Linked DNA regions of Homo sapiens: region 2 is linked to region 1. Evidence: fine-mapped expression QTL. A gene starts in region 1. The other region holds a variant in brackets. All regions are shown on one strand. Distances are from middle to middle.

Evidence for each region. PIP is the estimated chance that this variant, and not a neighbour inherited with it, causes the effect. A credible set is the group of variants that fine-mapping cannot tell apart.
Region 2: its variant is the best candidate, but not a certain one, in a credible set for the expression of NKD2 in sun-exposed skin (GTEx, PIP 0.62).

The regions. Positions count from the first base shown.
Region 1 is chr5:1,007,056-1,011,424 of GRCh38, reverse strand. It overlaps NKD2 (NKD inhibitor of Wnt signaling pathway 2), which reads right to left and starts at 2,623. Exons shown (of 10, transcript NM_033120.4): 1 at 2,343-2,623; 2 at 2,211-2,246; 3 at 1,865-1,944. The coding sequence starts at 2,367. RefSeq lists enhancers at 2,596-3,361, 3,362-4,127.
Region 2 is chr5:1,045,306-1,049,671 of GRCh38, reverse strand. No RefSeq gene overlaps it. Among named protein-coding and RNA genes, the nearest start is that of MIR4635, 15 kb to the left of the region's middle. The variant CTCAT/T (reference allele first, on the strand shown) is at 1,822.

The DNA of each region.
Region 1 (4,369 bases):
ACACTTCGCTGTGGTGGCCTGCGACTCTCCTGGACGTCAGTAGGATCTGTCGCAGGGGGAACAGCTGCCAGGTGAGAGGAACAGCAATGTGGCAGGGAGGGCACTTGGCCAGGTGAGGGCGCACCTGGGCCCTGGGGTCTCCATGCCAGGTGGGAGGAGTCATGGCCAGAGGCGGAAAATACAGAAAGGCAGCACTTTTGTCTGAAAGCTGAAATGTATTTAATTCACAGGACAGCCTTTGATTCTGAGTTTGTTCATTTTAACTTAGAAAGGAGTTTTCTTTCATGAAATGATGGCAAAATTAGAAGGTAACAATCCAAGCAAGCCCCAATTCCCAAGCTATTCTCTAAAGAAAATGTCCCAGTGTAGAGTGGCAGGTCTAAACGCCCACGAGCAGCCCTCACGCTGACATCGTAGTCACATGAGGAGCACCTGCATTTTCCAGAGCGCACTGGCCTTGCCCCATGGCCCTGGGAGCTGCACTTCATGGTGAGGGCGCTGGCTCAGGGATTTTAAGGTTCATGGTGCAGCGCCTCCCAGGGAGAAGGCTCCAGGCCAGTGGGCCAATGGACAGGGGCCGGCCAAAGCCCTGACCACGAGAGAGGTGAACGCCCGCCCACCCCAGGTGCTCACATCACTGACTAATCATACCAGGAGCACCTGGCTGCTAAGTGGCACCATCCACTCACCAGCAAGCCCCTGTGCAAATGTAACTGGCAGAGAGAGCCAGATTGGGGCGGGGACAGCTCCCTGGATGACCTCACCCTGGTCTCCCTGTCCCGGATAGAGGCTCACAGGACCACCCAACTTACTGTACCTTACAGCGTGCTTCCCACCATCACAGGCGTTAGATGGTCACTCTCAGGAAGCACCAATCCTAACTCTATTGCATGTTAATTTCCAAGCAGACCTAAGCCCCTTCTCAAGACAGAGCTGCAGAAAATGTCTCCAAACACACCCAGAACTTTTTTTAATCAACTGCCAGAACAATGTCTTTCCAAAAAGGAAACTGATTGCGTGACCCGGCATGTTCTGTGTCTGGGGACCTCTGGGGACAGTGGGGGAGGAAGCAAGGGGCAAGTGTGGGCCTGGCCACCTGGTGGGGCTGTCTGCACCGATACAGTTCACACTGACACTGATGACCATCAAATGTTAGCTTTCTCACGCTCAGCAAACATGCAGGTCTAATTTACCCCAGGCCCTTCCAGGGCCCCAGACCTGGACAGTTCTCTGCTCCTGGACATAGCACCTTCCTCACCCACCCTCAGGGCCGCCTGGCTCTTGAGCCAGCCTTGCAGTCTCTGCAGCCTTGCCACAGCTGTGCAGATGTCCCTCTGTCTCCTGAGCCTCTAGCAGGCCTGTGGTCACCCCTCCCAGAGATGGGAGGCACCGAGGCCTCTGACTCTGGCCATGTTTGCTGATTGAGCACTGAGGCTATGACCAGTGATGCCCCAGGTCTGTAGCTCCCACCCCTCCTCCAACTCCTCCAGCTCATCCAGCCGGGGTACTGCATTCCCGCTCCCCGGGACCCCCAGCCCGGGACGTCTAGGTCCAGCCCCTCCCACTCGCCCAGCTCCTCCAGCCCGAAACATGGAGCCCCCACACGGCTCCCAGCCTAGGACAAGGAATTCCGATTCCCCTACCCGCCACTCAGCATGGGACACTAGCAAGGGCTCGCCCCACGGGAGCCCCAGACGTCGTGGAGGCTGGGGAGAGACTGGCTCTCCTGGCCCCCGGTCACTCGTGCGGCCATGGCGGCCCACGTCTCGCCTGTCCGCGGGCGGGCACCAGGAACAGCTCTGACACCGCTCCCCGCCCCCGGGCGGGTGCGCAGCGCGACCCCAGCCTCCGCCCCGCCGCCTACCTGCTTGTCCCGCGCGCGCCGCTCCGCTTCCTCCGCGCCTTTGCGGCCGCTCGCGTACGCGGACGCCACGAAGCTGTCCCCTGCGGTCCGGGGGCGGACGCGCGGGAAACCCGCACCGAGGAGGGAAAGAGACGCGCCGTGAGCCCCGCGGGCGCTGCGCCTTCGCTGTGTCCCCATCGCCTGGAGACCGCGCAGGGGCAGGCGTGGGGGTCCCGCGCGCTCCTGGAGACCCGCGGCCCCGTCCCCCCACTGCTGGCTCCAGGGCAGGACGCGCGCGGGCTCCTAGCTCTGAGGGTCCCGGGCCGGGTCGCCGCCCCCCGCCCCGCCCGTCGGCTCGCCCGCTCACCTTCCGGGCTCTCTCTCCGCTTGCGGGCGGCGGCGGCTGCGGCACGGCGGGACGCGGGGAGAGGAAAACGACAGTGAGAGGCGGCCCCACGCCCGCCCGCCCGCCCTCCCGCCCTACCGGCCCGCGGCTCACCGTGCTTCGACTGCAGTTTCCCCATCGCCGCCGCCACGCCCCGCCGGGCCCCGCGCTCAGGTGCAGGGCTGAGTTCTGAAGCCGGGGCCGGGAGCCCGCGGGGGCCGCATGGGCCGGGAGCAAGCTAGGGTGCCGGTAGGAGGTGAGGGAAGATGGCTCCACGCCGCGCGGGGGCCGGGGGAGCCAGGGGGCGCCAGGTACGGCCGCGGGGCGGAGGTGGGGGGCCACCGGGCGCAGGGCGCGGGGACAGCGGCGGCAGCGACGGCGGCCCGGCTCCCTCTGAGCGCGTGCGCCCGCGCCGGGGCTTTAACCGCGGCCCCCGCAGCGCCCCCGGCGGCCGCTGCCCGCAGCGCATCGGCCTCGACCCCCGTTCCCAGCCTGGAGCCCCACCAGCGATGAGGACCCGGCCCGGCCACCTGTGGGGGCGGTCAGGTGCTGCAGCGGAGCCTGGCGGGAGTCAGCTCCGACCCCTCACCAGGCCGTCCTGGGTCAAGGGATCCCCAATTCCAGAGGAGCCTGAGGGCACCTCCCTTTGAAAGGGAGGACCCGCCTCCCTTGGCTGCTGGAGAGGGGGTGGGGGTGTGGGCAGCCCAAAGGGGGGTGGTATCCGGCAGGACTAGATCCCCGCCCTCTCCTGGCGCTCCAAATTGATGAAGAACCAGCGTTGGCCCCCCCCGGCCCCGGCTGGAAGGGCCCTGCACCCCCTCACTTTGTCCTTGGTTTGAGCAGGGTCTCCTCCGACCTGTGCCTTGAGGGTGTTGGAGCCTCCCAGGAGCCCCAAGCCTGGCCACCTGCGCTGCCTCCTCCACGTGTCCAACTCAGTGGCTTCAGCTGCTACCTCCCTGGCCTCATCTCAAGCTCCTCCAGCTGGCTCTGGAGACCCGTCCCTCAGTACCCTTCACTGGACCCCCTCTCTGCCTCCTACCCTGCTGGGTACCTCAGGGCTCTCTTCCTTATTTACCTTCAGAGGAACCTTCTTCCCTCACTTCCTCCTGGAACCCTAACTTGCTCCTGTTTCTGGGACATTTCTCCCTTCCCTACCCATGACTCTCCTCCCTGCCACGCCCTGTTGCATTGATACATTGTATCTCCCCAGCCTTTCAAGAGCTAGCTCAGCATTTTCCCCACGGGCTGTTGCCACGCCCACGTCTCCAACCTCAGTGGGTGACCCCACCTTCTGCCAGGGCAGCTCCCGTCCCTGGAGTTGGAGCTCCGAGGCTGGCGGTGCGGGACCCCTCACCTGCCCAGCTCCGGCCCTGCCAGGCCTCCGCTAAGCTGGCCCAGGTCCCACCCGGTCTCTCTGTTCCCACTCCCCTGGCTGGAGCCCTGTCTCACAGCTGAGCAGCGCAGCTCCGCGGCTGCCCAGTGCTGACTTGCACCTCTGGAGCTGACGTCCAGCCAAGCCCTTTCACTCCAATTACTGCCTCCCATTCTCAGACCATCCTCGGGGCAGATGCCGCCATCACACGATTTTACAGAGGCCTAGGCTGCTCAGTGGCAAAACGGAAAGTTAAACCAGAGGCCCGCCCCCCACCCCAGCAGCCTCCCCTGCTGGCTGTCCGCAGATACATGAGCTGTGGGCGAGCACATGAACAAGGGCACACGGACCCTCCTGGGAGTAGTCTTGCCTGCGAGCCATTCCCACCATCCTCTGAAGAACCCTAGTGGAGGGGCCACTTCCTGCAGGCAGACAGCTCTGGCACCTGGTAGCAGGGTTGCACCCGGCCAGGCCGTGCCTGCGATGGGCTCAGAGCGCCCTTGTGTATAGCGTCCAGGCGTCCAGATTCAGGGCCAGGGCCACCCTCCCAGGCTCTTTCGGCCCCTCCTCTCTCCCTTGCGCTACCCCAAGTGGACTTTAACTCCCAATTTGGAAGGTAACAATGCCATCTTCTGTGGTCTCAGGGTCCTAGTGAGTGTGTGAGGATGATAGTGTTACATGTTATGCAAAGTAGCACAGCCTGAGGATTGCAGCCCTTCCCGTGCCTCTAAATCCTGCCCTTACATGAGGACCGATGAGCCACCCTGGG
Region 2 (4,366 bases), 38 kb before region 1:
TGTGAGAGACAGAGCCGCCCCTTCCCCGGCAGGTCCACTCCTGGTGTGTGGCACAGCCTCAGGAACGGGTGCACGCAAGTTCACAGCAGCCAAAATGGATGCAGCCCGAGAACATGCTGAGTCCATGTGGGCCGTGCCTGCTGCAGGCCTCTCAGCTAGAACCAGGAGCCAAGCTTGGAAGCCTCACGCTCGGGAGGAAGCTAGACACAAAGGGTCTCACGCTGTGGGACTGCACTTAACACGAAATGCCAGAGTGGGCCAGGCACAGAGGCAGGGGGTGCACTGGCGGGTGCTGGGGGTGGGTCAAGGGGAATGGGGGGAGATGGGGGATGGGGGGAGGCTGCTTACAGGGTATGGATTTCTTTTTGGGTGAAAATGTTCCGAAATGGCTGTGGTGAAGCTTATGTGACTGAACATGCTGGAACACTGCCTCGTGCACGACGAAGGGCGAATTGTGTGTGTGAAGCTGCCGGGCACCGTGTCCAGTGGGCCTGACACATGGTGGACAGGAAGGGACACGGCACAGGAGGGTGGCGGGTCCTGCTCTGGCTCTCGGGTCACAGGAGAGTGACCGTGAGAGCAGCGTCGTCCTCGGACCCCCGAGGGGTGAGTGCTGGCTGCACCCAGGCATCCACACCCGGGACTCAGAGCACGGGAGCGGCCGGCTGGGGTGGGCCTACTGTCCTGAGGGCCAGATGCTCACAAATTCCAGCAGGGAGGTTTGGAGACCCACTGATGCCTACACATCTGGGACCAGGGCCCAGCCAGAAACCCCTAGGTGTCCCCTTCCCTGGGACCCCAAAAACCAGGCTGCTTCCTAGCCTTGGCCGGTGCTTCCCAAGGAGCAAGAACTCGGCTAGAGCAGTCACCCACTCATTCACACACTTAACTCGCCCATTCACACGCTAACTCGCCCACTCATTCACACACTAACTTGCCCACTCGTTCACACACTAACCCACTCATTCACAAACCCACCCACTCATTCACACACTAATCCACTCACACACTAACCCACTCATTCACACACTAACCCACTTGTTCACACACCCACTCAACTCACCCACCCATTCACACACTAACTTGCCCACTCATACACTAACTCACCCACTCATTCACACACTTACCCACTCATTCGCACACTCATTCACTAACCCACCCACTCGTTCACACACCCTCATTCACACACTAACGCCCACTCGTTCACACATTCACCAACTCATTCACACATTAACCCACTGACACACACTAGCCCATTCACTAACCCATTCACACACTAACCCACTCGTTCACACACCCATTCACAAACTCGCCCACTCGTTCACACACCCACTCATTCACACACTAACCCACCCACTCATTCACGCACTAACCCACTCATTCACACACCAACTCACCCACTCATTCACACACACCCGCTCATTCACAAACCCACTCGTTCACACACCCACTCACACTAAATCCCTCATTCACACACTAACCCACTCATTCACACACTCACCCACTCGTTCACACACCCATTCACACAACTCATCCACTCATTCACACACCCATTCACAAACTCGCCCATTCGTTCACACACCCCCTCATTCACACACCCTCATTCACACACTAACACACTCACACTAACCCATTCACACACTAACCCACTCGTTCACACACCCATTCACACACTCATCCACACAATAACCCACCCATTCATGCACTAACCCATTCACACACCAACTCACCCAGTCACACACTAACCCACTCATTCACATACTAACCCACTCGTTCACACACCCACTCACACACTAACTCCCTCACACACTAACCCACTCA[CTCAT/T]TCACACAATAACCCACCCACTCATTCACACACTAACCCACTCATTCACACACCAACTCACCCATTCACACACTAACACACACTAACCCACTCGTTCACACACCCACAAACTCCATTCACACACTAACCCACTCATTCACACACCTATTCACAAACTCACCCACTCGTTCACACATCCACTCACACACTGACCCATTCACACACTAACCCATTCACACACTAACTCGCCTACTCGTTCACACACTAACCCACTTATTCACACTAACTCATTCACACATTGACCCACCCACTCATTCACACATTCACACACTAACCCGACACACACCCACATTCACACACGAACTCACCCATTCACACACTAACCCACTCGTTCACACAACCATTCACACACACACTCGTTCGACCATTCACACACTAACCCATTCACACACTAACTTGCCCATTCACACACTCACCCATTCACACATTCATACACTAACCCACCCACTCATTCACACACTAACCCACCGACTCATTCACACACTAACCCACTCATTCACACACTAACTCATCCATTCACACACTAACCCACCCACTCATTCACACACTAACCCATTCATTCACACACTAACTCACCGACTCATTCACACACTAACTCACCCACTCGTTCACGCACTAACTTACCTACTCATTCACACACTCATTCACACACTAAACCGACTCATTCATACACTAACCCATTCACAAACTCACCCATTCATTTGCACACTAACCCACTCATTCACACACTAACCCACTCATTCACACACTAACCCACTCATTCACACACTAACCCACTCATTCACACACCCACTCATTTACACACTAACCCACTTGTTCACACACCCGCTCATTCACACACTAACTCACCCATTCACACACTAACTCTCCCATTCATTCACACAAACACCCACTCATTCACACACCCACTCATTTACACACTAACCCACTCGTTCACATACCCGCTCATTCACACACTAACCCACTCATTCACACACTAACTCGCCCATTCATTCACACTAACTCACCCATTCACACACGAACTCATTCACACACTAACCCACCGACTCATTCACACACTAACCAACTCACACACTAACTCACCCATTCATTCACAAACTAACCCACCCATTCACACGCTAACTCACCCATTCATTCACATAGTAACTCACCCACTCCTTCACACACCCACTCATTCACACACTAACCCATTCACACACTAACTCGCCCACTCGTTCACAAAGTAACTCACCCACTCATTCACACATTAACTCATTCACACACTAACCCACCCACTCATTCACACACTAACTCATTCACACACTAACCCACCGGCTCATTCACAAACCCACTCATTCACACACTAACCCACTCATTCACACACTCACCCACTCATTCACACACTCACCCAGTTGTTCACACACACTCATTCACAAACTCACCCACTCATTGACACACTAACTCACCCACTCATTCACACACTAACCCACCCACTCACACACATTCATACACTAACCCACTGACTCATTCACACACTAACCCATTCATTCACACACTAACCCACTCGTTCACACACCCATACACACACTAACCCACTCACACACCCATTCACACACTAACCCACTCATTCACACACTAACTCGCCCACTCGTTCACACACCCACACACTAAATCCCTCATTCACACGCTAACTCACCCACTCATTCACACACTAACCCACTCGTTCACACACCCACTCATTCACACAATAACATCCACTCATTCACACACCCACTCATTCACACACTAACTCGCCCACTCATTCACAAACTCGCCCACTCGTTCACACTAACCCCCTCATTCACACACCCTCACACACTCTCACACACTAACCCACTCATTCACACACTAACCCACTCGTTCACACACCCATTCACACTCATCCACACAATAACCCACCCATTCATGCACTAACCCACTCATTCACACACCAACTCACCCACTCAGTCATGCACTAACTCACCCACTCATTCACATACTAACCCACTCGTTCACAAACCCACTCACACACTAACTCCCTCATTCACACACTAACCCACTCATTCACACACTAACTCACCCACTCGTTCACACACCAAAACACTGACCCATTCACACACTAACTCGCCCACTCATTCACACAAACTCACCCACTCGTTCACACACTAACTCACCCACTCATTCACACTAACTCATTCACACATTGACCCACCCACTCATTCATACATTCACACACTAACCCGACTCATTCACACACTTACCCACTCATTCACACACGAACTCACCCATTCATTCACACACTAACCCACTCGTTCACACACCCATTCACAGTCGTTCAGCCACTCATTCACACACTAACTCACCCATTCACACACTAACTCGCCCACTCGTTCACACACTAACTCACCCATTCACACACTCATTCATACACTAACCCACCCAGTCATTCACACACTAACCCGACTCATTCACACACTAACCCACTCATTCACACACTAACTCATC